Homo sapiens: one gene and its partners. The main gene of each other region encodes a partner of the protein of the gene in region 2 in a complex. Each region holds a gene or a part of one and is shown on either strand. Other genes may lie near its edges. The genes, in order: TGFBR1, TGFB3, TGFBR2 and ITGB6.

Region 1 (7,022 bases), on a different chromosome or scaffold from region 2:
TTTTCAGAATAGAATACCAAATGACATACCACAAAAACCCTTCCAAAAACAAAACAGAAAAAGTTTGGGTTACCCAGATAAATAAGCTTTTTGAATTCAAACACTATAGGTTTTAACATAGAGACTTTCAGCAATTCTACTCATTTCCATTAGAAAGACACAGAAGTGGCACTTACTGGTATAGTACAATCCCATTTTGAAGGCATGTAATGTTCTGAATAAGTGAAAGAACAATAATAGTATACAAAATACAATTGCATGAATTATGTTCCTCACTACTATATGAGGTCATTTTTAGACTCAAGATAAGAGTTTTATAAGTGTTAGTTTTAAGATCCTGAAAAACTATAGAACAGTACATTCAAAGTCTGAATCAAGGAAACTCTAGTGGTTCAGAATCCTCTGAGAATGTACTAACCAGGAGTAAATCACTTTCTTTAGTAATAAGACATGTTTCATTGTAATTCAGCAATCCAACTCCTTTGCCCTTAAAGATGATCTCCAGCACAGCAGAGTTACCTAAAGTTAAGACCAGCAATCATCTTTTTAAAAAACAAGTTTTGTTAATAAAAAATAAAGGTAGACTACACATTTTCTGTCCTGGGAAAGAAGCGTTCATAGTGCACAGAAAGGACCCACATGGCTGTTTCCTGGGTCCAAAGAAATCCTGGGAAGTTTTTAATTGACTTTATTACACTGCTGCAAAAGGAAGCAATATCCTTCTGTTCCCTCTCAGTGAGGTAGAACAATTGACCTCCCAAATTAAAACCCAGGAGCAGATCTGAAGAAAAAAGGAGAGTTCAGGCAAAGCTGTAGAATTACATTTTGATGCCTTCCTGTTGACTGAGTTGCGATAATGTTTTCTTAATCCGCAATGCTGTAAGCCTAGCTGCTCCATTGGCATACCAACATTCTCTCATAATTTTAGCCATTACTCTCAAGGCCTACAAGAAAATATAAAAAAAAAAATTAATGCATGCACCATTTTCCATTGGTCTGGATAAGAATTTTTACGTGTAAATTTTCTTTTTAAATGACATATACACTTGTTATTGTTTAAGCATTATTTGTAATAGCAAATGAGTAGAAATTACATAAATTTCCATCAATAGGGTACTGGTGCCAGTGCTGGAAAGCAGGTGGACAAAGAGTGACTCATTTAGCAAACCTGAAAAGGCCGAATCCTAAACCAGAGCTGGGCAAAGCAAAGAAGAAATCTGACCTCACACTGAAATTTTAAGTTTGTACTTTGAAGTATTCACATCAAATTTTTCTTTCTTTTTTTTTTTTTTGAGACAGGGTCTCACTCTGCCGCCCAAAGTGGAATGCAATGGCATGCCCTCAGCTCACTGCAGCCTTGACCTCCCAGGCTCCAGCAATCCTCCCACTTCAGCCTCCCAAGTAGATCAAATTTCTAAAAGACAAAATCTAGCAGCACTCTCATTTATTAAACTATGTCACATGCAAATTCCTTAAGCATGCTGAAATACATTTTATTTATTTGGGCCTGGAGATGTGATTTTGTTGGAGGTAGCAAGCTCTCTTGCTTATCAGAGGTTCTGCTGAGTCCTACAATAGTTTAAGACGTAAAATCAACTACTGAACTGAACAGCTTTTTATAGCCTTTTTAAGCTACAAATCTTCAAACCTGGAGGAATATGCTCTGCTTCACCAATATTGTAATAGTAACAGCTAGCAATTAAGGAGAGGTTAAATAAAATTCATCTTACGAATCTTTAAATTTACAATTACAAAAACGTTTCTAAAACTTTTTGTTAGAGCTGAAGTTGAGCAGCTCAGATACTGCTGGAAAAAAGCATTTTCCCTAAATTCCTGGTTAACGGTTATCTGGGCAATCAGATGAATAAAACGGAAAATCATTTGAAACACCTTTGTAATCACCTTATCTGAGTTCCTCACCTTGCAAAGGGATATTAAAGTCCAGAGAACTAAAGGGATTTGTTCAGAGTCAGACCCTTGAAATGGTAGCCAGGCTGGTCTAGAATACAGGGCTCCTCATTCATGTCCGGTAACTGTCTAGTGTTCTGGGTTGCCCCGGCTGAAGGGAGGCATTCATTTAAAAATATGTGCCTTAGTTCGCCCGGCAGATCTAAACTATGTTCTGATACACTAAAGGCCACTGCAAATGTTCCATGGCCCTTTCAATGTGCTTACAATTGAATATGAAAACCAAATTATTCTGTTTTTAAACATTGGTTTGACTGCTATGAAAAAGAAAATTCTTAAAGAAAAGTTTTCCTTAAAGAAAAGTAGCAAACTTTTGCTTACTAAGCAGAAGCAGTTTAGAAAATTGCCTAATATCAAAAAGAAATACTCACTTCACAGCTCTGCCATCTGTTTGGGATATTTGGCCTTAACTTCTGTTCACAAACAACTTTTCTCATTTCTTCAACTGATGGGTCAGAAGGTACAAGATCATAATAAGGCAGTTGGTAATCTTCATGAATTCCTGTATCAGTTTAAAAAAAATTAAATTTTGATGAATTTATTCAGCTAATGCCAAGGCATTAAAAGATCACCTGAGAGACCTATTACAGTGTTTCATTACTAAAGTAGGTATGTGGAACAGAGATTACAGCTTTCTCTATCTCATCCACATCTGTATCCACAAGCCACTTCCCTGAGTTGATATTCCACCCACACCTTGAAACTAAGTATTGCCATGAGATCAATAAAGCCTATTTGAAATGACAGTAAACTATGAGCTGTGATGACCAGATTGACATTTTCCCCTAGAACCCTATTGTGCAGCAAATGAGATTCTATTCTGTAAGTGCACAGGCTCTCACTTGCACAGGGATATATATACCCTATCAGTGAGACTTGAATCTTATGAGGCAAGTTTAAGGTGCCAAGTCCCTTTCTCTACTTGCATCTGTCAATAATATATCCTATTTACTACAATACAGAGAAATACTCTGTCCCTCACTGCTTCAAAAACCTAAGGCACTAGGTCTCAGCCAAGTCTAGGTCCCCAAGCCTAAGAGACTGTTTCCTGAGTAAACATTAAAAGTACTCCATCTAAAAAGCTAGAAGTTAAAACAAACTAACTCTAGAATACAACACAATGGTAACATAATTGTATTCTGTGTATGTAACTGTAACTATCAAGTTGGAGAAAATAACCACAATCTCAAAGAAAAAAAATAAGTTTGACACCCAGGTACATGCTAGAAACAGCTTCCTAGGTGAGCCTCTCAAGCAGCTGTCCATTCTAAAGAACTATATTCCAATATAACAAGGGGTTGGGTTCTGATGAGTCTCCAGATTCAAATGGAAACAGGAAGAGAATACACTAGGCTAGAGCTGTGCATGTGCACACCATGGCACTGTCCCCTCCCAAAGGTTTCATCGCCTTTGTTTTCTCTGGCACTCGGTGACATCCTGTTTCAGATAATGGACTGTACATAATTTCATTCAATTAAAAAAAGAAGACAATTCTTGAACAACTTCTGCTCATGACAAACTACTGGGGGAGAGGAGAGCAATTTACCACCAATGGAACATCGTCGAGCAATTTCCCAGAATACTAAGCCCATTGCATAGATGTCAGCACGTTTGAAGGATTCAAAATGTTTCATATTTATGGAATCATCGAGAACTTCAGGGGCCATGTACCTAAAAAAAATTTGCAAAAAGAACTTTGAAAATCATCCCCTTACTGCCATATTTGGATGAACCTCCTTTCAGACATTTCTTTATACATAGACATATGTACACAATATTACATAACAAATATTAGACTCAAGAAAAATATTAAATATCCACACTGGTTTGCACATTAATGATGTCAACTAAATCCCACAAAATGCTAAAATAGCAGTTTCACACTATCTGCCTCATGATCTTGGTTTCCAATGAAAGACATACATAACAATTGTGACTGTTAAAGGTGTCCTAATGTACACCACCTATACACGTACTAGGTAGAAACCATGCATTTTAATTTAGAAGTCTTCTCACTGAGGATGAAAGGAAGGGCACGAATATACTCCAGGGAAAAAAATAATAGATACAAAAGAATGCCAGTCCTCATACTGAAGCTTCAAAAACCTACCAAAATTATGGGTCAGGACCCACAGAGACCTACAGCAACCACTGACAAGGACCCCTTAGCTGGTTGAGAATTGAGAGTCATCTACGGCCATACCACCCTAAACACGCCCGATCTCGTCTGATCTTGGAAGCTAAGCAGGGTCGGGCCTGCTTAGTACTTGGATGGGAAAATTGAGAGTCCCCAGGGAATCCAGAAATCTCAAAATTATACATGCAATTTGAATAGACTAATGCTGCTGGCTCTCCAGCTGTCTCCAAGGCCAAGACAGTAGTTTGAAAAAATGCTGTGACAGCTTGTGATAAGGGGTTTGGGTCAGAAATGCCCAGGTTCAAATCTCAGCTCTTCGGCTTATCATCCACATGAAGCTGGCCATATTATTTAACCTCCTCAAGGTGGTTTCCTCATCTGTGAATTAAAGGGTAATAACACCTACCTAATTAAGTTCTTTTGAAGACTCATGGACTCAACAAATATCTACTGAGGATCTACCATGTATTAGGCACTGTGATGGATGCTGGGAATACAAGGCTGCTCTCAAGCAGCTTGCACCTAATAGAATATATAGGCAAATAAATAAACAGTTACAACATAACGCATAAGTGCCTCAACGGTCCCAGTTCAGTGTGCTATGACAGTCCCTGGCAGGGACTCCTAAGATTTTTGAGGACTAGAAAAAACTTCCTACGGGAAAGGTGGGTATGAGGCTGAGAAACAGTAGGGTAAAGTATGCTCCAGGAGACAGCATGTGCAAAAGTTCTAAGAAAGCAAGAAAGGCATATTTTTAGGAACTGAAATATGAAAATAGCAGGGCTAGCTACTGCACAGTATTTGAGAAGGGATTAAATGAGGTAATATACGTAAAAGACCTATTAGACGATTGGCACATAGTAGGTGCCCTATAAACGTTAGTTACTACTGTTATTATAATTAACATGCCTAATGATATTTTCTGGAAGGGCAACCTTTCATCAGCAGGCATCTTTTTAAGTCAGGTAACTCTGGCTTCAGAGCAGGCAAGACCATGAGATCTTCTTACCTGTTGGCAATCTAATAAAGTGCAAGTTTAAGCTGAGTTTCAGCAATGATATGTATATATGAAAGAGAAGGGAAAAAAGGTGATTTCAGAAGATATTAAATATAGTTGTTCAAAAGTATACCTTTTTGTTCCCACTCTGTGGTTTGGAGCAATATCAATGGTATCTGTGGCTGAATCATGTCTTACTGCCAGTCCTAAGTCTGCAATACAGCAAGTTCCATTCTTCTTTACCAAGATATTCTTTGATTTCAAATCTCTATGAGCAATGGCTGGCTTTCCTAAAGAATCAAAAATTAAACATGACTGCTTAAAAGGTAATACCAATCACAACTCACATCTTTAGGTTCAAAAGTCTCTTCTCCCAACCCAAATTATCAAAGCATTTCAGCCCACATGACCTACAATACTTACGGCATTATTAAACTCAAGTGAATCACTACACCAAAAGTCACTGAATTTATATTTCTTTAAAGAAAATGTGGACAATAACATGCTTTAAAAGATGAACAACTCAAAGACTGGGGCAAAAAAAAAGTTATCAGTTTATCTGTTGGTGCCTTATGAATTCTTTTTAAGAAACTTAGCCATAGACTGATATTCCAGCAGCCCAGGAACCAAGCATGTAGAACATCACTTCCCTATCAACTGCAATGTACTCAGTATTAAGTATATTATCTTTGATGCTAACCACTAGAAAATGTTATTAAAAAATAATAATTATAATGTGGAAAACCTGGAACCTTCATACACTGCTGGCAGGAATGTAAAATGGTTCAGGCACTTTAAGAAAATAGTATGGCAGTTCTTCAAACCATTAAATAGAGTTATCATATGATACAGTAATTCAACTCCTAGGTATATACCCAAGATAACTGAAAACATGAAACTACATACAACTTGTACACAAATGTTCACTGCAGCATTAGCTACAATGGCCAAAAGAAACAAACCAAATGTCCATCAACGAACGGATATATGACATATGCCATATCCATACACTGAAGTATTACTTAGCCATCAAAATGACTGAAGTACTCATACGTGCTACAACATAAATGAACCTTGAAAACATGCTAAGTGAAAGAAGCCAGTCACAAAAGACCACATATTGTATGATTCATTTATATAAAATGTGCAGAATAAGCAAATCTACAGACAAAAAGGAGCAGTTGTTGCCTAGGGCTAAGGAGTTTGGGAGGAAAGGGGAGTGACTGCTAGTGGCTACAGGGTTTCTCTTTGGAGTGAAGATATTCTAAAATTGACTGTAGTGTTTGCTGGCTGTACAACTCTGAGTATTCTAAAAACCACTGAATTTTACACTTTAAGTGGGTGAACTTTATGATGTGAATTATAACTCAATAAAACTGTTACAATCAATAATAATAATAACTACAAAGATGGAGCTAAGATGTGAACTAGCACTTATGCTGTATGTAAAGTGGGGAGTGGGGGAGCCATTGGGTTGCAAGTGGACAACTGCTAGAGCAGAGAGATATACTGGCATCTGAAATCCCACATGCACAAAAACTACAGCATACAAATGTCATAACTAAAACTTAGTATTTAATTTTTCAACTGTAAAACTATCTCATGCAGTCTCCTTATCTCAAGGTCAAATATAATTATTAGATGGCCAGATAACAGTTACCTAGCATGTTGATGTTTACAAAGCACTTTCACATTTCATTTGATACTACACATAAAAATATATTCAGTTGGACCTGAATTCTGAAACTGAGATCCTCAAAAATCATAAGATTGAATGCTACTTTTAAGAACTCAAAAAAAATCACAGTTTTGTTACAACGACTAGAGAATCTCTAAACAAATTTCCAGATTCCTAGCTCTACCTGAAATTTTGAACTGAAAGATAAAATGTTCTCATCTAAAAAATTTGTTTTAAATATC
Region 2 (7,804 bases):
CTGGGGCCCAATCTTTTAGTAAGTGCGATCCTAACCAGTTTTAAAGATAAAAAGGCCTGATGGGGGTTACAAAGGAGGAAGGTAGACACTGAACTTGGGTCTTGAATCTAGCTCCATTATTTACTAACTATAACGCTGGGTAAACCACAGCCTCATAGGCAGCAGTAGCTAACCTCTTCTGACCTCTTCCGTGATAACATATGCCAAGCACTGAGTTACACGCTTCCCATGTATTGTTGCATTTCCTTTTCACTGTAACACCTCCATTCTAGGCATAAGGAAACCAAGGCTCGGAAAGGTTAAATCGTTTTTTAGGTTTTTTTTTTTTTTTTGAACCCAGGCAACAGCTCTATGCTCCATCTGGCCTCAGTGCCTGAGCACCTAATCACTCCCTCACGTTACAAATCGGTCTTGGTTTCCTTAACTACTGAGGTAACTGAGGTTAACTCCCACCTCCCCACGGGGATTACCGGGAAGAAAGGCCGTCCCTGCCTGCCTCCCTTCCATGCATAAAACAGTGCGGCTTTTGCAGGAACTTCTGCGACGAGGTGTCCCAAAGGAAAAACTCTAGGATGGGAGCGAGTGCGACCCCGGCCGGGGCTCCCCTATCACCCTGTGATCGATCTGTTCTGGGGAAGTTCGCACTCGGGGCTCTAGAAAACGGAGAAAGGCTCGGAAATTTCCCACGGTCCTAGACGCCGGCGGGGACAGGGTGTTTTCTACTTTCTGAGGATTTTAAAGAAAGCAAACCCCAGGCCAGCAGCGGCGGAGCCCACAGTGGCCTGGGGGCGGGGCGGTGAGGCTGCCTCCTTCTGGGCCTCACCCGGCGCGGCGCGAGGCCTGCCGCCCTGAGTCGCCTCAGAGAAGTCGGGGCCGGCGGGGTCGCTCCTCCCCACCCGCCAAATCCTGGCCCCCAAGGCCCCCGAATTGGTCCTCACGGAGGTAGCCAAGCTGTAGCGAAGCTCCTCGTCCAAGTCGAGCAAATCCTCCATCTCCGCGGCCGCCTGACGTCACTTCCTGGAAACCGACTGGCCCAGACGCGTCCCTGCTAACAGCCCCGCCCCTCCACCCCAATTTTTAAAGGGTACGCAGCATGGTTCCTGGATTCTGTGTGCCATCCTCCAAACTACCGAATCTTTCTTAAATCTGCCTTGCTTGACATCTGGAAGCAACCTCCGGTTATTAAAACTCGCCAACGCTGCTCCTGCGAGACGGTAAAATAATTTGGTCGTTAGGAACTGTCTGTATTTGTAGCTCTGTTTAAATATATCAATATATTAAGTGCAAAGCACTACTACTGCTATACTGATGCCTCCCACTTGTACAGCTCTTTGCAAGGTACAGAAGGCCGTCACAGTTATTGGCTTAACGTGAGGGGCATTAACAACCTTGTGTGGGAAGCAAGATAAGTGGTATTGTTTCCATTTGACAGATGAGAAAACAGGGAATCAGGTGTAATAAATGGTTTACCATGAATTATGGAAACTGCAATATACATAATCTCTGCCTTCAAGAAGTTTACAGAGAGGCTGAATCAACACATCAAATAGCTGAGTAGTAATAACTTTCAAAAGTACAAATATTCAATATCTCATTAAATCCCAATAATCCCGCAAAGTGAGTAGCAGTAGTATCTCTAACACAACAATAAAGCACACTGAGGTACAAAGAAGGGGCTTGAGGAAAATCACCTAAGTGCCAAGCAGCAGAGCCAAATGCCCTTCTGACACCAGACATTACTGGAGTATTTATCTCCAGCACATACTACTGGGTGCCAGCCATTCTCCTAGGCTGGCAGAGGGAGATGTACCACAAATTCCCAGCCTAATGGGGCATTTAAGTTGCGTCTTTGTTGACTCTTCATATGAGATCTCCAAGTCAATATCACTGGCCAGGTCCCTGACACTGGTTGGCTGAGATCCATAGGAGATGGGCTGATAGCCCTGAAAGCAAACAACATTCCAGTATTATGTTGAGGGGAAGGCCTGGATGGACACAGGTTAAAAGCAAGGATTCGGAAGTGGGAGTAGCACCCCTGAAACCTCATTGCAAGCATTTCTTAAATATCCAGTAAATCACTCAGTTCAGTCACACATGTTACTGGATAGGACTGTGTGTTAGCATGCCTGTGACAGCAAGAGCACTGGCCTGGATATCAGAAGAGCTGTGTTCTCATCTTAGCTCTCCTGAAAACTACCTGTGTAGTCAGAGCAGAGCCCTTTCCGCTATCAGTTTCCTCCCTTGTAATTACTTTAGAGATTATCTCTAAGATCCTTTGTTAACTTGCTTCTCAGTGAGAATACTTTGTTAGATTTTAATCTGAAGAAACACTCATTGCCAAAAATCCAAGACAGATGAAATATAGGCTCCAATGAATCCCTTGTTCCCTTCTTCTTCGGCACCAGATGAGGAAGAAGGGATTAATCTTTGGATTTTTCCATTTCTTGTAAGCTCACAGCATACGACCATCACCTTATAGTCAGTTTCCAGACCTTCACCCCCACTTCTTCCCCAACTTGCTGAAAACAGAAGGCAAATGGTCCTCACTCTGGGCAGAGAGGTACCCTGCAGTAGTAGCTTCCAGAACTTGCTTAGCACCTGAATCACGTGTGAGGTTTGTAAAGAAACAGAGATGCCAGGGCCTCAGCTCTGGAGACTGATTTGGTAGAGGTGGAGTCCAAAAAAGTATAACTTTAATAATTTTCCTTCCTATCTTGCAACTGTCTGCTCAAAGGCCTTCCCTTATCACCCTATTTGAAACTGCAACATCCCCCAACCTAGGCACACCCCATCCTCCTTCCCTGCTTGATTTTCTGCCACACCACATTTGTTTGTTTGCTTGTCTGTTTGAGACACGGTCTTGCTCTGTCGTCCAGGCTGGAGTGCAGTGGTGCAATCTTGGCCCCCTGTAAACTCTGCCTCCCTGGCTCAAGTGATTATCCTGCCTCAGCCTCCCAAGTAGATGCCTGCGCCAACATGCCGGGCTAATTTTTCCATTTTTTTGTAGAGACTGGGTTTCGCCGTGTTGCTGGGGCTGGTCTCGAATTCCTGAGCTCAAGTAATCCTCCTGCATGGGCCTCCCCAAATGCTGGGATTACAGGCGTGAGCCACTGCACCTGGCTCAGCACTTTTTACCGTACTACATCATTTACATATTTATTTAGTTTATCGCCTCCTCCACTGCCCCACCCCTGCCTCTAAAATAAAATTTCCCTGAGGGCAGGAGTTTTGTTTCGTTCACTGATATTCTTCACAGAGCCTAGAATAGTGCCTGGTATATAGTAAACATTAAACTTTTTCTGAAATTTCAGAGGCAGTATAGCATAGTAATTAAGTCCAGAATCTGGCAACGTCCTGGGTCCAAATCCCAACAGCTGACACCTAATAACTATGTGACCTTGGGCAAGTTACTTTTAAAGTTTCTACCCCTAGGTTTCCCATTGGTTTTGCAAATGAAAGTAATGCCTACCCAAGCTAGATAGCCTGTGTAAAATATCGCCTCCATCACTCACAAGCAGTGTGGTCTGTAAAAAAAAAAACAAAAAACTCTATGCCTCAGTTTCCTCATCCGTAAAGTGACCCACCGCTGTGCTGGGATACAGAGAACAGCCCCTTCAGTTAGTGGCCTGGAAGCCAGACCTCTCAGAAAGGGTCCAGGAAGGCTGGAGTGAGATGGGGTGGGAGCGGCACTCACTCTCAGGAAAGTTCAGTTCAGAGGCAAGCCCTGTGTTGCGGGGTGCGGGGAGCCACGTGCCCTACCCTCCCTTGGCTGCTCGTGGGAAAAGGCCTAGAGGTTCGGGCCGAGAAGAGGAGCGAAAGCACAGAGCCGACTTCCCCTCACCCATCTGGGAAATGGGCTCGGGCCAACTGCTGACTTCGCGCTCGCTGGCGCAGCTCCCTGCGGAGACCTCGGCGGGGAGGGAGGCTGAACATCTGGATGACATTTCTGCGAGAGCGGCTCCGGAGCGGCGGTCGGGGAGGGAGAGGTGCGCTCGTGCGCACGTCGGGCCGGGAGGGAGGCGATTCCTCGGGGCCTGGGTCTTGTTTTTCTCGCTCTCTACCGCAGCCCCTTCTCCCGCCCCTCAGCCCCCACCCCGCAGCCCCCAGCCCCCGAGCCTCCCCGGCTCCCGACCAGCCGAGCTCCTTCACTGGCGGCCTCGCCTCGCCAGAGGGCACCCTCGATCTTCCGGAAAACGCCACCATTTTTCACTGCCCCTGGAGCGTCTCCAGGCTTCTGCCCGCCTCCCGACTCCGATCTTGTCAATGAAGAATCGGGCCAGGATCGCCGCGGAGCGGACGCCGACCCTCCGACCCGGCTCGCAGGCTGGGAGTCCCCTCTGCGAGGCTGGCATGGCCGCCCCTACCGGGTCCCGCGCCCTCTGCGGACCCTGCCCCGGGTTGGGCCTGGCCCGCGGGCGGCCCCGGGACCGGGGGACCAGGAGGGAGAGTAGACGCGGGCCGCGGACGGCGCGGACTGACAGCTGGCGAGAGGGCGCCGGGGCTGGGGGAAAGGGAGGGAGGGGGCTCATCGGAGTAACTTTCCAGAAAAACAGCCAACGTGTGGCAGGAGTGATTCCAAGAGGGGAAAAAAAGTTCAGCTACCACGTCGAACGAGAGGACTCGCAAAGTATTTTTCAAAAGGGCTCGGCTTTTCCTGTGCCTGTTTAAAACATTAACATCGTGCAGCAAAAGAGGCTGCGTGCGCTGGTCCCTCCCTCCCCCACCCCAGGCCAGAGACGTCATGGGAGGGAGGTATAAAATTTCAGCAGAGAGAAATAGAGAAAGCAGTGTGTGTGCATGTGTGTGTGTGTGAGAGAGAGAGGGAGAGGAGCGAGAGGGAGAGGGAGAGGGAGAGAGAGAAAGGGAGGGAAGCAGAGAGTCAAGTCCAAGGGAATGAGCGAGAGAGGCAGAGACAGGGGAAGAGGCGTGCGAGAGAAGGAATAACAGCTTTCCGGAGCAGGCGTGCCGTGAACTGGCTTCTATTTTATTTTATTTTTTTCTCCTTTTTATTTTTTAAAGAGAAGCAGGGGACAGAAGCAATGGCCGAGGCAGAAGACAAGCCGAGGTGCTGGTGACCCTGGGCGTCTGAGTGGATGATTGGGGCTGCTGCGCTCAGAGGCCTGCCTCCCTGCCTTCCAATGCATATAACCCCACACCCCAGCCAATGAAGACGAGAGGCAGCGTGAACAAAGTCATTTAGAAAGCCCCCGAGGAAGTGTAAACAAAAGAGAAAGCATGAATGGAGTGCCTGAGAGACAAGTGTGTCCTGTACTGCCCCCACCTTTAGCTGGGCCAGCAACTGCCCGGCCCTGCTTCTCCCCACCTACTCACTGGTGATCTTTTTTTTTTTACTTTTTTTTCCCTTTTCTTTTCCATTCTCTTTTCTTATTTTCTTTCAAGGCAAGGCAAGGATTTTGATTTTGGGACCCAGCCATGGTCCTTCTGCTTCTTCTTTAAAATACCCACTTTCTCCCCATCGCCAAGCGGCGTTTGGCAATATCAGATATCCACTCTATTTATTTTTACCTAAGGAAAAACTCCAGCTCCCTTCCCACTCCCAGCTGCCTTGCCACCCCTCCCAGCCCTCTGCTTGCCCTCCACCTGGCCTGCTGGGAGTCAGAGCCCAGCAAAACCTGTTTAGACACATGGACAAGAATCCCAGCGCTACAAGGCACACAGTCCGCTTCTTCGTCCTCAGGGTTGCCAGCGCTTCCTGGAAGTCCTGAAGCTCTCGCAGTGCAGTGAGTTCATGCACCTTCTTGCCAAGCCTCAGTCTTTGGGATCTGGGGAGGCCGCCTGGTTTTCCTCCCTCCTTCTGCACGTCTGCTGGGGTCTCTTCCTCTCCAGGCCTTGCCGTCCCCCTGGCCTCTCTTCCCAGCTCACACATGAAGATGCACTTGCAAAGGGCTCTGGTGGTCCTGGCCCTGCTGAACTTTGCCACGGTCAGCCTCTCTCTGTCCACTTGCACCACCTTGGACTTCGGCCACATCAAGAAGAAGAGGGTGGAAGCCATTAGGGGACAGATCTTGAGCAAGCTCAGGCTCACCAGCCCCCCTGAGCCAACGGTGATGACCCACGTCCCCTATCAGGTCCTGGCCCTTTACAACAGCACCCGGGAGCTGCTGGAGGAGATGCATGGGGAGAGGGAGGAAGGCTGCACCCAGGAAAACACCGAGTCGGAATACTATGCCAAAGAAATCCATAAATTCGACATGATCCAGGGGCTGGCGGAGCACAGTAAGTCCAAATTCTCGCTGGGGTGTCTGCTCTGGAGGGTCTGAACTGGAGCTGGGAGCTCTGCAGAGGGGGGCCTAGTGCTGGCCACACAGCAGGGTGCCCCAGGATTCACCAGCACCAAGGCTCAGGATGTGCGATGCTCCTCCGTTGGGGCTGGGGAGGTGGGTGGGGAAGGAGATAGAGCCATTCTGTTAAGAGCCGGCGCTTCTGGGAGGCCAGGAGCCCTGGAGCTGAGTGGCTTGCTGAATTCACATCACATCCTTGACTGATTTTAATTTGGAATTACATTGTGCTGTCCAGGGAAACATATGTATTCTTGCACATGCGATCGTATCAGTAACTGTAAGCATCTGGGTGCCATAAAGGGGAAGGCCGGCTCTGTCAGGAGCCCTTACGGTTCTCAGTGTGGAGACCTCATCTTCTCCCTGCTTTTCACAACTCATTGTGACACGTCTCCGTTTCAGTTTTTCCAGTTCTTGGGAAGAAGAATACCTGCCCCAAATTAATGTCTGTCAAGCTTTTTGAAGCCCAGGCAGGAGACAGCTTCTTGCTGCCTGGGCCCTTTGGTCTACCCCACCCACGTGACCCACGAGACCCACGTGAGCTGTGTGTGTGGAAGGAAGAGGGTATGCACGAATGTTCCCAGGGCCGTGTACTTTAGGGTGACATGCAGTCTTGTGCAGTAGACAGATTCATGTGCTCAAAATGGGCGCCCTCCAGGCCGGTGGGCACGGGGAGAGCGGGTTTTGGCTGTGGATGCGTAGAGGAGGCTGGCGCCCTTTGTGTCTGCGTGTCACGGGAGAGCGGGTGGAGGGGTGGCAGTGGGTGCATGGTGGGGGGGGGGGATATGTCTGGGAGCCTGCCGTCCCAGGAGGCTCTGTCTGCATGGAGGAGCCGGGCGGCTTCTGGGCGAGATGTCTGTGTGTGTTGGTACACGTGTGGAAGTCATATGTGTTTACTGAAGGGGATTTTAAAAACCTCAATACAAGAGAGAGAAATTTGGCAGATGTTGAGAAACTGACAGCCCAGGAAAGAGGAATGTGAGCCACTCGTGGGCCGTAGACTCCGGGAGCAGCTCTGTTTGCTTTTCCTACCAGCAGGTGTCCTCGCCGCCCTGACTACCTCAGCCCAGGCCCACCTGGGAGGTGGGCAGCTCCTGGAGTGGGGTGGAGGGCATGGGATGGAGCTGGCAGGCAGGGGAGGGTGGTCAGCAGAGCACACAGCAAGGGGTGAAAGGAACCTGGCTGGAGAGAAGGAACAGGAGTGGGTACCGATGGGTGGACCAGCTCTGGCTGGAGGTGCAAAGGCCCCGTTCACGGCTCCACGCCAGGCAGAGGAGCCTGTGGTTACTGGCGAGGGGTTCCCGCTCCAGCTTCCTGTGGCTGCCTGGAGCGCCTTTCTTCAGGATGTGGCTGCCATGTGGGGCGGAGGCTGGAGGCCGATGCAGAGCTACTACTCCCTGCCCAGGGTCTCTGGGTGGGGCTGGCTCAGAGACCCACAGTTCCCAGAGGCACCTAGCAGCTCGATGGCCAAGGCTCCAACTCCCTGGGAACCCACCAACGCGGGA
Region 3 (7,022 bases), on a different chromosome or scaffold from region 2:
CAGGCAGGACAGAGCAGAGTATGCTCAAGGCAGACTCCATACTTTGGCTAGATTCCCTAGACCAGTGTCCAGAGTACAGGGCTGTTTGAGATAAGAGCCAGGAGATATGGATCAAGAGGTAGGGTGAGGCCAGGCTCAAGGTAAAGGGGATCTAGCACTAGCTCTAACTTACCTGCCCACTGTTAGCCAGGTCATCCACAGACAGAGTAGGGTCCAGACGCAGGGAAAGCCCAAAGTCACACAGGCAGCAGGTTAGGTCGTTCTTCACGAGGATATTGGAGCTCTTGAGGTCCCTGTGCACGATGGGCATCTTGGGCCTCCCACATGGAGTGTGATCACTGTGGAGGTGAGCAATCCCCCGGGCGAGGGAGCTGCCCAGCTTGCGCAGGTCCTCCCAGCTGATGACATGCCGCGTCAGGTACTCCTGTAGGTTGCCCTTGGCGTGGAAGGCGGTGATCAGCCAGTATTGTTTCCCCAACTCCGTCTTCCGCTCCTCAGCCGTCAGGAACTGGAGTATGTTCTCATGCTTCAGATTGATGTCTGAGAAGATGTCCTTCTCTGTCTTCCAAGAGGCATACTCCTCATAGGGAAAGATCTTGACTGCCACTGTCTCAAACTGCTCTGAAGTGTTCTGCTTCAGCTTGGCCTTATAGACCTCAGCAAAGCGACCTTTCCCCACCAGGGTGTCCAGCTCAATGGGCAGCAGCTCTGTGTTGTGGTTGATGTTGTTGGCACACGTGGAGCTGATGTCAGAGCGGTCATCTTCCAGGATGATGGCACAGTGCTCGCTGAACTCCATGAGCTTCCGCGTCTTGCCGGTTTCCCAGGTTGAACTCAGCTTCTGCTGCCGGTTAACGCGGTAGCAGTAGAAGATGATGATGACAGATATGGCAACTCCCAGTGGTGGCAGGAGGCTGATGCCTGTCACTTGAAATATGACTAGCAACAAGTCAGGATTGCTGGTGTTATATTCTGATGGGGAAACAAAACAAGGAGAGAAGGAGTTGGATGTGGTAGGTAAGTACTGTCAGGAAGTGGGTTCATGCCTGAGCATCTATAGATTTTAGCATCTGCATAGTTTTTGTAGATACGATATTGTTAATTTTTATTTCAGGGATGCAAGTGCATGCTCGTTCAGCCTTCCCTGCCTCTGGCCATCTGTTCGTCATCCCCTGCTCTTCCTTCAAACTTCAGCTTAAATGTCACTGCTTAAGAGAGGCCTAGAAAAACTTGGAAAACTGTCTTATTTTATACATTTTCATAGCACCTTATACTTTTCCTAGGTAACAATTCAGTACAACTTAAACTAAATGAACTATGACTCTACCTCTTGATTTCACATCTGTCTTTCCCTACTCTTGCCATCCCCCACGGACAGGGAACTCCATGCTGGAAGGTACCATGTCTTCTTCACTACTGTAAACTGCACTTAGCACACAGCAGGTCCTCAATATTGCCAAATAAAAAGACAAACCATTTACTGAGTGTTATCTAAGCTCAGGACATTGGGAACATGAAAAAAAATGACACAGCTTCTGCCTTCAAAAAATCTGCATGTATGACATCTGGTAAAAACACAGAGCGTGCCACAGTTTGCACCAAAATCTTTGCTCTTTTTCAAACTCCAACTTGTTCTGCTCTGATCAGCATTCAGGCTACCCTGGGCCCATGGGTGACAGGGAGAGGAGTCCATGGAAAGGATCTCTTTGGACAGTTATCTTACATCCACCCAACATTCCTCTTTTCAGTGTGCATACGAATTGTAGTTTCATGGAACTGAAATATTTAATAGCAACAATGGAAACATGGCCGCAAAGGTAAAACAAGTTAAAAATGGAAATGCTGCAGTTTTTTGACTTGGAATTCTGAAGCAGGCCCCTGTGGGCTGACAAGGAGAGTCCTTAGCACCAGATATCTAACTATAATATCTTGTGCCTCAAACTTTGTTTCATGTGCTGGCCTTGTTGGCTCTGGTGAAATAGTTTTCCTTTTTGGAAGAAGGACATGAATAGAAACAGACAGTGGACAGGAGAGAGCAAAAGGCAGCTCTAGTTCACTGGGAGCTTGTGCTGGGCTGCTTTCATTGGGCAAACATGCAGAATTCTATTGCTTTATGTGTCATCCATCTGCCCTCCAAAGTACCCATTAATGAGCAGGCCTCATGCTCAGATCCTAGAATCATTCATTAAATATATCACTACTGAGTGTCTATGATGGGCATGGCACTGCCCTCAGAGAGTACCCAGTAGAGGACTTAGGGCATATATACAAGTAAGCAATATATGGCATCTGGGATAGGGGCTAAATGTACAATGTAATCTATATATTAGTGGAATGTGGAAAAGCTTAGAGAAACATGGAAGGCACAGTAGCAAAAAACTGCCTTTAAGTTGGTCTCTGAAGAATGGGAAAAGTCAGTGATGAGTGGAAAGAGTGCTATGTTAAGGAGAAAGAATATATGATCTACTTAAGGAAGAGCAATTATCCCATACTGACCACTCTGCACCTGCGGAATAGAAAGGAAAAAAATGGGTAGGTGGTATGGAACCAAACTCCGTGTCAGAAAAGGATCTTTTGATTATTCATTTGTCAGTTTTCACCTACAGTAGGTGTTTAAAGAGAAAAAAAAAAGTGATGAGAATATAGTCCAGGTAGAATGAGGATATAACCAAATTCTCTCAAGGGGAACCCATTACCTAAATGATACTGATAAAGGAGTTAAGAAGAAATTACTTGGGCAGATAGTAAGGGTATGGAAGTCCTCGGTAAGGTGTTTCTTTTTAATGAAAAGCAGCCCCAAATCATTTTCTAACAAAGAGCAGCCTGTAAAGTTGAGCTTCAGACATAGACAGGCAAGCTGGGAGCTTGCACGGGTGAATGCCAGCAGGAACTAAGGACATGTTCAAGATGGCAGCTCCATCTTCCCTTCTCTTTGTCAGCCATGTGTACAACAAAGAACAGACCAGATGGTGCTGATCAACTGGAAAGCCCATTTGCATAATAAGATTAGGGTGGGGTGACCAGTCTTCCCCATGCACTATGTAAACGTCATACCTGATTGAACCAATCTGTGAGCCCTATGTAAATCAGACACCGCCTCTTCAAACGGGACTATAAAATCCAGCACATTCACCACTGGCCCGTCCTTTCCGCTTGGAGACTCCTTTCTCTACAGAGAGAATTGTTTCTCTTTCTCTTCTCTTCTGCCTATTAAACCTCCACTCCTAAACTCCTCATGTGTGTTCATATCCTAAATTTTCCTGGCTCATGATGATGAACCCCAGGTTATATACCCCAGTCTACATAGCTACTTCAGCATCTGATACTTTCTTTTTTTTTTCTCGAGATGGAGTCTTGCTCTGTTACCCAGGCAGCAGTGCAATGGCACGATCTCTGCTCACTGCAACCTTGCCTCCTGGGTTCAAGCCATTCTCCTGCCTTAGCCTCTATGCCCAGCTTTTTTTTTTTTTTTTTTTTTTTTTTTTTTTGTATTTTTAGTGGAGACGGGGTTTCACCATGTTGGCCAGGCTGGTCTTGAACTCCTGACCTTGTGATCTGCCCGCCTTGGCCTCCAAAAGTGCTGGGATTACAGGCGTGAGCCACTGCGCTTGGCCCAGCATCTGAAACTTTCATCTAACGAAACAGTGAGAAATGAAGCTGGTACATATCCATTTTTAAGGTTTATGTGTAATATGATTACTTGTTCTTAAGGTAAGTCTGAGTGGAAATGCCAACTTCCACTGACTATATATTCTAGATGAAAATCTTGGGTCTAGTAACCAGAGAAGTAACCCCAAGATATCAGAATTCCAGCAACCAAGAGGGAAAAAAAAAATCACCATTTTTTGGAAAGATATATGAATGCATTTTAAAAGTATAGGGAAAGTGAGAAAATTTGGTGATTGATCCTTAAAAACATAAATTCTTACACTGGGAGGCTTGGATTGGGACAAAGAACAGGCAAGAGTAGGGCAGAAATGGGGTGGGACAAAGCAATTACAGAATGATTGAATGCAAAAGAAAAAAAAGATGCTCTTGTGGAGATGTATGGACTGTCCCTGTTGTACAGCAAACAAAATTAAGGGGGCAGATGAACACAACACAAATTCAAACACAACAGCCGATCCAGCAGTCGGCATTTCCACTTAGGCTTACCACTTCCACAATGCTCCCTGCCTGAAACTCCACCTCTATTATATGTGGTATCCAATGAATGTGTTTGCTTGAAGTACCCACTTGTCTCCGGTCTCTGTGTCTGTAACTACATGGAATGTCTTATAATCAGAAATCCACTTGATTATCTGATTGCTTCTCTCCTGACAAAGCAGGGTAGTGGCCAGGTCTGTTTTGATCATCATGATATACACAGCACCTGGGGCAGAATGGGGCAATTTATGGTATTCAACAAACGTTTGTTTTAGAAGCTGAATGATTACTTACGTGGAATGATACTTCTCAAATTTTTTATATTTTACAGCAAGGTTTGACAAACTATGGCTCAGAAGTCCATGGCCTGCTTTTGTATAGTCCTATGACCTAAGAATGATTTCCATCCCCATTTTTAAAGAGTTGTTTAAAAAACAATAAAACTAAGAGGTTCATGCAACAGAGATCTTATCTGGCCCAGAAAGCCTAAAATATTTACTATCTGGCCCTTCACAGAAAAACTTTGCTGACCCCTGTTCTAGAGGTGTTATTTTAATAACCTCATTGGCAGAATCTGGAGAGACTTCACTTTGGCCAAATGTGAATATGTAGTCAATTTTTTTTCACATATGAGAAATACAATTTGAAAAAATTTAAATATTAACTGCATAATTACTTAGCTTTGTCCTTAATTCACTAAAACGTCCAGATGAAATGTTGATTCATCATGGATAATTTTATTTTACAATTCCTAAATATCTATAAAAACAGTCGTATTTGCTAATTTCAATTCCTTTTTAGCCTAAAGGAAACACAAAAACAGAAATCCCCTTAAGTTTATGTGTGGCACTGACTGAAGAAGATTCTAGAAATCCCCAGTTCAATGTCAGAAACCAAAGTTTTACTTTCTCCTAAAATTTCCTGTTATTTCTTTAGAAGACTTACACTTAAAAAATTTGAGGGGGAGGAATTCTTGAATAACATCTGTCAATCTTGAAACTTCAAAGAGGTGGTGAAAAACTCTAACAATAGCAACCAGGGCTGGAAGGAAGCTTTGGGATGTGGCTTTATCTAAACAGGAGCCACCCACACCCTCTGGCAGTATTAACCCTTGGGTTGCTACTAGAAAACCCAACAGCTGTTGGTGTAGGTACAAGCCAGCATCTCCTTTAGTCGAAGACCAACAGGAAATGCTTCTTTTCATCAGCCGCCAGTTACAGAGAAACTCATAAACTGAACACTTACTAAGTTCCTGGCTGTGTGCTAAGGATTTTATAGAATATTTAAATTTAATTGATAGAAAAACCCTATGAGGTAGAAACTGCTATTATTATAAACCCCATTTTACAGATAGGGAAGCTAAAGATCAGACAGTTTAAGTAATTTTCCCAGATGATAAATTTAGGCAACAGCAAAGCTGGTATTTACAATGAGCATTGCCTGATTGGAGAGACTTCTGATCTCAACCCCATACCTGATCTCTAAACTTCATATTGGTGAGAGCCAACTAAGAATGGCAATGACCTTAGGCTGGGTGTGGTGGCTCACACCTGAAATCCTAGCACTTTGGCGGGAGAATCACTTGAGCCTAGGAGTTTGAGACTAGCCTGGGCAACATAGTGAGACTGTCTCTACACAAACTTAAAAAAAAAAAAAATTAGCCAGACACTGTGGTGCTTCCTGTAGTCCCAGCTATTACGGTGGCTGAGGCAGGAGGATTACTTTACTTGAGGCAGGAGTTCAAGGCGGCAGCACACTATGATCCTGCCACTGCATTCCAGCCTGGGTAACAGAGCAAGACCCTGTGTTTGTGCGGGCGGGGATGGGGGGGTAGGGGTTGCGGGGGAGGGGAAGAATGACTTTATATAAGCTCCCAATTTGATAAAGTGTTTTTCTTTAGTGTAGCCTGGACTAAGTGATTTTACAGCCATCCACCGACTGACATTGGCAATTCTTGTATAATGTGTCTAAAGGAGTATATTTTGGGTATGGGGATTATATTCCTTTGTTCTGAACTAAGAACCACAGTTTAGTAGTGTCTCTGTAAATATGCATCTTTTTCCTGCCAGGAAATAAAAAGTTTTATGTGAAGGAGAACCCCCAAATCTTTTTCTTTTCTCAGAGCCTATTCTCATGGCCTAGATCTTAGCAGAGCTCAAAACATAATTGTTGCACTATTGGGACCTTCCATGAATAGTAATAACATTGAACCAGATATAGCTCTGAAGGGCATTAAAAATAAGGGTGGAATTTATCCAAGGCCCATAAAAAAATGAGGCTATAATAGTAAACATTTTTAGCCTGGGTTCCATAAATAGAGTTCAGTGGGTCTGTGAATTTGAATGGGCAAAAATTGCATCTTTTTTTATTTTCTCTAACCTTTAATTAAAAATTAATATTTCCTAGTATCAGCTGTACCTATGAGTTTGTTGTTGCAGACGTCTCAGCATGTGACTTACGCTCACCATTTAGACATTTCAATTGTTTAGATCTGCTGCTATTGTTATTTAAAGCATTATTATAGAAACATATATTACTATAACACAAATTCATTTTTAAAATATTTGGTCATTGTATTTCAATGTAATTGGTTTTCTTTGAAATACTCCATGTTCTATTTTATGCATTTAAAAAACATCACAGTGAGAAGGGGTCCACAGGCTTCCCTACTTCAAGAAGTCCATGGCACAGACACACAAAAAGGGAAGCTCCCTTGGCAGAGTGAAGGCATTTGGGCTCTAGTCTCTTTTCCAGGACTTGCTAGAGCAGGAATTTTGAGATTGATGGGTTTCTCTAGGAAGTTGGTAACTAGTGCCAATGGGAGATCTGCCTGGCTTGATTTGTTGTGCTGCACATGGACAACTGTGGATGCTGTC
Region 4 (7,022 bases), on a different chromosome or scaffold from region 2:
GCCTGCATCAGCCTCCCAAAGTGTTGGGATTACAGGCATGAGCCATCGTGCCCGGCCTTTAATTATCTCTTTAAAGGCTCTATTTCTAAGCACAGTTATAGTCTCAGCTACTGGGGGTTAAGACTTCAATACATGAATTTTGGGGGGACAGGGGCTATTGGGGGTGGAAGGTGATACATTTCAGTTTATAGCACTAACTCTAAAGAACTTGACTTTACAAAATGGTGATGTCCAGGCCCGCTCCCTGCTGTCTCTTGCCTTCTGTGGCTGCCTCCTTTTGCTCTTCTCCTTGGCCCCAGACCAAGACCATCAAGGCAGTCAGAACAGGTCACAGAGGAATCCAGAAATCCAAGAAGAGGGTTTTGTGCCAAGCAAATAAAAGAAACTATCATCCATCTAAGGTTCATTGTTTAAATTACCATGTTTATTTATATCAACACAAAATACAATAATAAACACGACAAAACCATTTTATCTTCATGTAACATAACTCTTCAGTGAACAGAAGTACTACTGTTAATGTTTTGGCCTTTCCAAGGTCCTGCCTGGGGTCAAAACAGTATTCAGAGAAAGAGCAGATTCTTCTCTACCTTCCCTAAAACACACACAAAGGTAACTTCTATTTTCTAAAATCCCATTCCAATAATAATTAAAAAAACAACAGTAAGTCCACGTAGAGGAGAGGATTGCTGTTGTGTTATCAGCATTGCAACCTGTATATTGCTGTAGATTTCCCCCAGGTTCTGCGCATCAGTCAGGAACATAAAGGGTATATCAGCCCTTCGGATTTTCAAGGTGATTTTTCAGTAATTCTTTCACCTAGCCCTGTACTCTGTAAAGGTCTGATTTACCTGAGTTATCTAGAAACCAGCAAAAAAAGAGTCTCCAAGTGATCAAAGGTATATGGATCTATCTTGTAGAATTGAAGAAACTTATAGATTTTGCTGTGACAATTCAATGGACAACCACGAAGCCTCCACTACATAATGAACTATTCACCTAGTAAAAGCTTCACATTACAATTTAATCAAAGGTAATAAACATTGCACAAAAGTACAATATCTCATCTATATGCCAGCAGTTTAAATGCTATTTGTTCAGTCTCGAACATTTTCAAACAAATGACAGTTATCACTTAACTAACACAATCTTTCTATTATTTCACTGACAAAAGAGGCAGTTTCCTGCAGTGGAAAGAGGAGATGGCTTGGAGTTAGAAGAGCTAGATTCTGAACCCAGCTCTACTCATTCTGAGCCTTAGTTTCCTTATGAGGATCAAGTGAGACGAAAGTGCTTTGTAAAGGAGTAATAACCACAAGAAATAATATTCTAGAGTCCATCTCTTCCATCAACTGATGGATCCCTAATTTGCACATGTATTTTGCAAGTAAAATCTTACCTCTTAAAGTAAATATATGATGCATATTCACCACATGCAGCTGAAATGTGCAAGTTGGGTTACATAGATGGGAAAAGAGTATGTATTAAAAAGCCTTTAAGACTTGTATACTCTTGATGTGCTTGATTTAGAGCCATTTAAAATTTTATTGTGTTTAACACATGTTCCTTTTATATTATTGGATCGCTCTTTGAATAAACTAAGCATTTAAAGTAATTTTTTTTTAAAAAGAAACTTTGGTATGACAATTACAGGGTTTAAAAGACTGTGCAACTGAGTGAAATGGATTGAGAAATATGGGAGAAGTAACAGTTTGAAAACTCAGAGTCAAAAAGGAAACAGTGTAGAATATCGTTTTTCAGGTAATTTAAAAATAAGCTATATGATAGGGTTGTTATCTTTTTATTTTTATAGGTAACTTCTTAATTTATAAATTACTTATTCCTTATTTGTAAAACAAATAAAATATTTGTGTACTTAACGTTTAGGTGTGTATAAATTCACAAAAATTATTAACACTTAACTTTCAACCTTATATTTGAGATATCTTCAGAAGAATTGCAACCTTTTAGCTGAAATAAACTCAGAATCTCATTTCTCAGAGATTTAAAAAAAATTCTCCTTTAAGAGAGGGCATATTTCCTACAAGTTTAGAATTAATTGGCAAGTATAGACACACAATGTGAGTATATGGGCTTTGTGACTTTGCCGAGACAAAAAACTCAGGTAGCTGCATTCCTGAAACAAATGAGACTCTAATTTCAAACATTTTTCAAATGCAAATCAGGCCCCCATGAATCATTTGATGATTTTTTGAAGCATTAATGCAACAGAGTTAGTATTCCTCAAATGATCCCCAAAGTCATCTCTTTGCTAAGGATATTTCTCTTCTTGATTATTTTGAAACTGCCAACAGTCTGTCACCTTCATGTAGAGGATGACTTATCTGCAGATGTCCTATTATTATCTTAAACCAACCTCATTTTGAAGCAACAAAGAGAAAAAAATTAAATAGTGCATTAACATTTCATATCAGTGAAACAGACTTTTTTCATGCATAAAGTAGTTCTAGCAATCTGTGGAAAGGTCTACCTTTTGTTTTTCCCTGTGTTTATAAGTTACATTTTTAAAAGTACTTGTGGATCCTCTGTAGAGTGGATTGGTTCCCTGGAAAAAAAAAAAAGATTCAAGTGAAAGTATGTATATTTTGTTTTTATACTGTTTTAATACGTAGTGCAAATTGGAAGAGGAGAGTCAAGCTCAGTCTTGGAAACCATTAGAACAATTTTGATTAATTTGGCATTTCATATGTTTAGTGTTTTGCAATTTATACATTTTCATTTTGTTAAATATACAGAACAAGTCCCATATGTATATTCTAAAAATCTTACCTCTTTTGGTAATGCACAAATTTACGGATAGAAAACAAGGCTTCAGCTGTTGTGCTCACTGCTGTTTTCCCAGCACTGAGTCCCTGGCCCAAAGCAGGTACTCAGTATGTATGGAATGAGTGGCATGAACAGTGACAGATGAACCAAAAGTGAAATCAAAGCCAAAAAAGTAAAAAACAGGAAAAGTGAAACCAGTAGGAACATACAAAAATGAACGACACAGTATCTGCCTTTAACAAACGTGTTACTCATGAGAGGCATCAAAGAAGGGCACAAATAATCATGCTAAGATGAAATCAAAACTCAGAAGTGGGAGAAAGTAGTTGCTTGGGAGGAGTGAGGAACCATCCTCTGGACAGCTAACACTTGCCCTGGGTAGCCAAAGAACCAGCTGTCTTTTGCTTACTATGTACAACACTGTGTAAGACAACCACAAGAGACTGGTATGGAGGACCCTGGGGTCATGAAAGAGTTGCAGTCCAAAGGCAGGCCAGGAAAAATGGCTTTGCCTTGGGGGCAGTGGGAAGGTTGGGTGTGGGACTCTTGGGTAGCTCAGCTGTGCTGTTTGGGTTATAGATGTGCCTCCAGGTGCCAATAGCAGTGGTGCTGTAGCCAAAAGGACCAGAAGGTCCAGAAGGATCAAGCCTCTCTAGTTGTTCCAGGCCGGAGGAAGGTGTCTGGGTAAGGTACAGTTTCTTCTCTCCCACTTTCCAAGGCTGATCACACAGGCTATGGCAACAGTCTGGGTCCAAACCCAGCTCCACCACATGACCGTACTGAAGACACTCTGAGCCTTGGTGTCCCTATCTGTTCCTACCTCGTCCAGGTAAAGTATTTTAGCACTGTGTGTAGCACATAGCAAATGCTCCATAAATGCTGCCTCTTCTCATTAGTTCCTATTTATAGCTTTTCTTCACATTTGGAATTTCCTTTTCTTTTAGGTTTTAGAGAGGATTATTAAGATATTTTCCCCCAGGGCTTTGGTACACTTAACATTTCTAAGCCCATTACTGAGTATGTATGGAATCCAGGTACCGCCTCTGACCTTCTAAGTTAAAATCTTATACTTTGATCACCTCATTCCATGAATTATAGCTATGGTAGAAATTTCTAGGGGTGGATTTGAAAAAAAACCTTAATTGTCTTTGCTTGCTCAGTATATTTCTTTCAGCTCTTAAAAGAATTGAATAAAATCGGAAACACTCCCCGGTCTTTCCCACTCACTGGCCTCAGTGCCCTCATTGTGAGTGGGAATCACACCTGCACCCATTTCTATGTTGTCCAGAGCCAGTGGCCTGACCTCTGACTAAGTGACATGCTACTTTTGTTATGTGCCTTTAAAGAGATATGCTATTTCTATAATAAAGCCAAACAGAAAAATGTTCCTTGGCTGGTGGTGGATGATGGGTGAAAGCTAAGTTGGTATATTGCTTCTATTCCTGAGAGCAGCCTGGTTAATTCTGAGGGACCTCCAGATCTTATCTAGTCTTGCTGCTCTAAGAATTTGAGATTTTGAAGGCAAAGGGCAGACTGATGTGAATTTAGATGTAGATGGAGTCTCATTTGCAAACAAAAATCATGCATGGAATTCTATTAAATTTGAGACTAGAATCTAGTTGGTTACAGGAGAATGAGAGACTCCATTGAAGAAACAAGATGGAAAAAAGTAAGAGGTTCAGGCCAGCAATGACAGGGTAAGCCTGTCCTGGAGGAATTTCCCACTTCCTCCAGGAAGCTCCCACCTTTGTGAACAGAAAAGACACTTGGAAAGAGGACACAGGCTGTGAGCAGGGCCAGCTTAGAGCTCCGTAGGACCAGATACTTGTTTGTAGGTGCACCCTATATCATGTCAAACATACTACAATACACCCATATCCCACACTTAATATAACTGATATGCATTATAGAGGAGGTGACTTGAATTGCAGTTGACAAGATAACACAATGTTATTTAGTAGATATTTAGTTGAATGTTTAATTTTGATGGCAGAGTTTTCATTCCGTATTTTAAAGCAACTTCATTCATTCAGGTTTGCAATATTTTGGGAGTCCCTTGCAATACTGGTTTAGGGCCAAGACATTGCTTATAGGGAGTGATGGGTAAAGCAGACTTCACTAGAGTAAGAGGGTAAGGTGGAAGTGTAAAAGTGGACGAAGAGCAAGTACATATTGCTGTTGTGTGTAATAGGGTATTTCCTGGCCTCAGCTGAAGATCAGAGGTCAGGATAATGCACTCACATTGGGTTTTGTTCCAGGAGGAGGTGTGGAAATGTCCACACTGCCTCCTCTAGTGCTCTGCTGATTGTAACCTCTCTACACAGACTTTCCAGCTGAAATGCAGGCTTGAGTCCTACTCTATTTCGGGTGAGTGTGCAATCCACTGCTCAGAAAAGGTCAGTTTTCCCCTAACCATTTGGGGTTACCAGGCTGATTCCCCCAGGTGTCTGGGAGTGCTAATTTAGGCTGTGGATTCTGCAAATGCAATGACACATTTTTCAAGATTGAAAAAGTGGTAATAGGAAAACTCTGTCATGACCCACAGCTTCCTTAATGATCGCCCAACTGCCAAACACAGACCTGATTTGCTTAGCACAGTACAAAATCAATTCATGACTGCAAGAAATGTCAGGCTGAACATTTTTTTGCCTCAAGTTAATGACTTGTCATCCTAGAAAAAAAATTCTAATCAAAGATGAATTTAAATATGTTTCATTTGTGTTTTCATAAAGAATATGTGGGGGTGGGCATTATTTTTTAAAGCATAATAAAAAAGATAACCTTTCTTTACAGCTGCTCTGAAATGTTTTAGGAGGTAGGAGTGAAGACCTTTCTGTCTTAAGCCCTGTCACTTTATGAGTCCAGTGCAGTCCTATGGCCAGGAGGCCTGACTGTCCCTATTGTCTCTGGAGGGCACTGGGTTTCAAAGACCAGTCAAATTCACTTCTTCAAGAAGAAATAGGTTTTAGGGAAAAAACTCAGTTAAATTGAAGACCCCTAAATGTGTGCAGTGAGCGACATTTTTTTCCAGTAGGATGTTAGTGAAATTTAAACTGAATTATTTGAGTTAAACCTTTTTTGCATCCAAGTGAATAATTACTACCCAGTCATTATCTAGTCAGGAACATCAAACATTTGTTATTCAAAGAAACTCAATTTAATAAGGGAATAATATTTTCCATTTATGCTTTTTTTTCTGTTTAATGCATGTTCGGGTCGCATGTTAGATGAAGAAACAGCAAAAATTCAGCATTTGAATTTCAGTCATGTTCTACATCCTGAGGGAGAACAATTCATGTTTTTGGGGAAATTAACTGTTAATTAAAATGTTATTTTAAAGATATTAATCACTTGTCAGTATTTATGCCTCTGTATGAGAACATTGAAATGTGCTGGTTAGTAGATACACATCACATAATTGCCCAAGTGCGTGTTTGTGGAACACCTGCTTATTATTTCCAGGAGGGTCAACCAAAGGCTGTGCTTAGAAGAACAATGAACAATTAGGCTTCAGCTTAACCATGCACCAAAAGTTAGGGAAGTCCCTTAACTTCTCTGAGCCTTAGTTTAGCTCTTCAAAATGGAAATACCAGGATTATATCATGGGGCTTGCTGCTATTGTCCTTTGTGGCAACTTAACCATATTCTTTTACCTGGTTGCCCTTCTAACCATGGCAAGGCATTTGTTGGAGAGTTGATGAAAGTCAAAAATAACATCTGTGGCCAGGGGTCAGGTGAAGTGAACTGTCCTACAACTTTGGGCTCATTAGTACTGTGTTCTAAGTCACCAAGCTAACCTGTTTACCTTTTACATTGTTAGGGATGAGTAAATTATATCTTCTCCTGAGGAATTTTGCTTAATTATGGAAAATACACACATTCGCAAAAAGAGGAAAGCTATATAACCAACCTCCAAAGACCCATCGCTCAGATTCCACAGTTATCACAGTTCTGCCACACCTGCTTCAACTATCCCTCCATCCCACTCTCTTGGCTGAATTATTTCAAAGTGAACCCCAGCTTTCATTTCCTTTCACTCCTTCAGTATGCATCTCTAAAAAATATGGATATTTTCTAGCAATGTCACCATGCCATTATCATACCTAATCAAATTAACCATACTTATTTGCTATCATTCTAATACCCAGCATGTATTAATCTTTTTTCAGTCTTTTTATGTATTTATTTATTATTTATTTTGGAGACTGGGGCTCACTCTGTCACCTAGGCTGGAA

Evidence for each region.
Region 1: the proteins of TGFB3 (region 2) and TGFBR1 are in contact, whole or in part, in a crystal structure (PDB 9B9F), measured with the Homo sapiens proteins. Residues at the interface, in NP_001316868.1 of Homo sapiens: Ala301, Leu302, Asp303, Asn305, Tyr306, Tyr350, Leu351, Ser353, Thr357, Thr360, Leu364, Leu368; in NP_004603.1 of Homo sapiens: His39, Leu40, Thr42, Lys43, Phe55, Met70, Ile78, Phe84, Val85, Lys91.
Region 3: the proteins of TGFB3 (region 2) and TGFBR2 are in contact, whole or in part, in a crystal structure (PDB 9B9F), measured with the Homo sapiens proteins. Residues at the interface, in NP_001316868.1 of Homo sapiens: Arg325, Lys331, Trp332, His334, Tyr390, Tyr391, Val392, Gly393, Arg394; in NP_003233.4 of Homo sapiens: Leu50, Phe53, Asp55, Ser72, Ile73, Thr74, Ser75, Ile76, Glu78, Val100, Asp141, Glu142.
Region 4: the proteins of TGFB3 (region 2) and ITGB6 are in contact, whole or in part, in a crystal structure (PDB 4UM9), measured with the Homo sapiens proteins. Residues at the interface, in NP_001316868.1 of Homo sapiens: His259, Gly262, Asp263, Leu264, Arg266, Leu267, Lys268; in NP_000879.2 of Homo sapiens: Ser142, Ala143, Ser144, Asp147, Pro196, Cys197, Ser199, Ile200, Tyr202, Cys204, Ala234, Asn235, Ile236, Asp237, Thr238, Glu240, Asp271, Lys355.

What each region holds. Positions count from the first base shown.
Region 1 is NC_000009.12:99,143,102-99,150,123, reverse strand, and holds part of TGFBR1 (TGF-beta receptor type-1 isoform 1 precursor), read right to left. Parts: intron 5,393-7,022; coding exon 5,236-5,392; intron 4,628-5,235; exon of another isoform or gene 4,512-4,627; intron 3,640-4,511; coding exon 3,515-3,639; intron 2,471-3,514; coding exon 2,340-2,470; intron 945-2,339; coding exon 819-944; 3' UTR 1-818. UniProt on the Homo sapiens protein: Transmembrane serine/threonine kinase forming with the TGF-beta type II serine/threonine kinase receptor, TGFBR2, the non-promiscuous receptor for the TGF-beta cytokines TGFB1, TGFB2 and TGFB3.
Region 2 is NC_000014.9:75,978,975-75,986,778, reverse strand, and holds the start of TGFB3 (transforming growth factor beta-3 proprotein isoform 1 preproprotein), read left to right. Parts: upstream 1-4,783; 5' UTR 4,784-5,885; coding exon 5,886-6,237; intron 6,238-7,804. Other genes in the region: IFT43 (intraflagellar transport protein 43 homolog), read right to left, coding at 939-992. UniProt on the Homo sapiens protein: Transforming growth factor beta-3 proprotein: Precursor of the Latency-associated peptide (LAP) and Transforming growth factor beta-3 (TGF-beta-3) chains, which constitute the regulatory and active subunit of TGF-beta-3, respectively.
Region 3 is NC_000003.12:30,665,588-30,672,609, reverse strand, and holds part of TGFBR2 (TGF-beta receptor type-2 isoform B precursor), read right to left. Parts: intron 973-7,022; coding exon 173-972; intron 1-172. UniProt on the Homo sapiens protein: Transmembrane serine/threonine kinase forming with the TGF-beta type I serine/threonine kinase receptor, TGFBR1, the non-promiscuous receptor for the TGF-beta cytokines TGFB1, TGFB2 and TGFB3.
Region 4 is NC_000002.12:160,099,269-160,106,290, forward strand, and holds the end of ITGB6 (integrin beta-6 isoform a precursor), read right to left. Parts: intron 2,567-7,022; coding exon 2,468-2,566; 3' UTR 403-2,467; downstream 1-402. UniProt on the Homo sapiens protein: Integrin alpha-V:beta-6 (ITGAV:ITGB6) is a receptor for fibronectin and cytotactin. It recognizes the sequence R-G-D in its ligands. Internalization of integrin alpha-V/beta-6 via clathrin-mediated endocytosis promotes carcinoma cell invasion.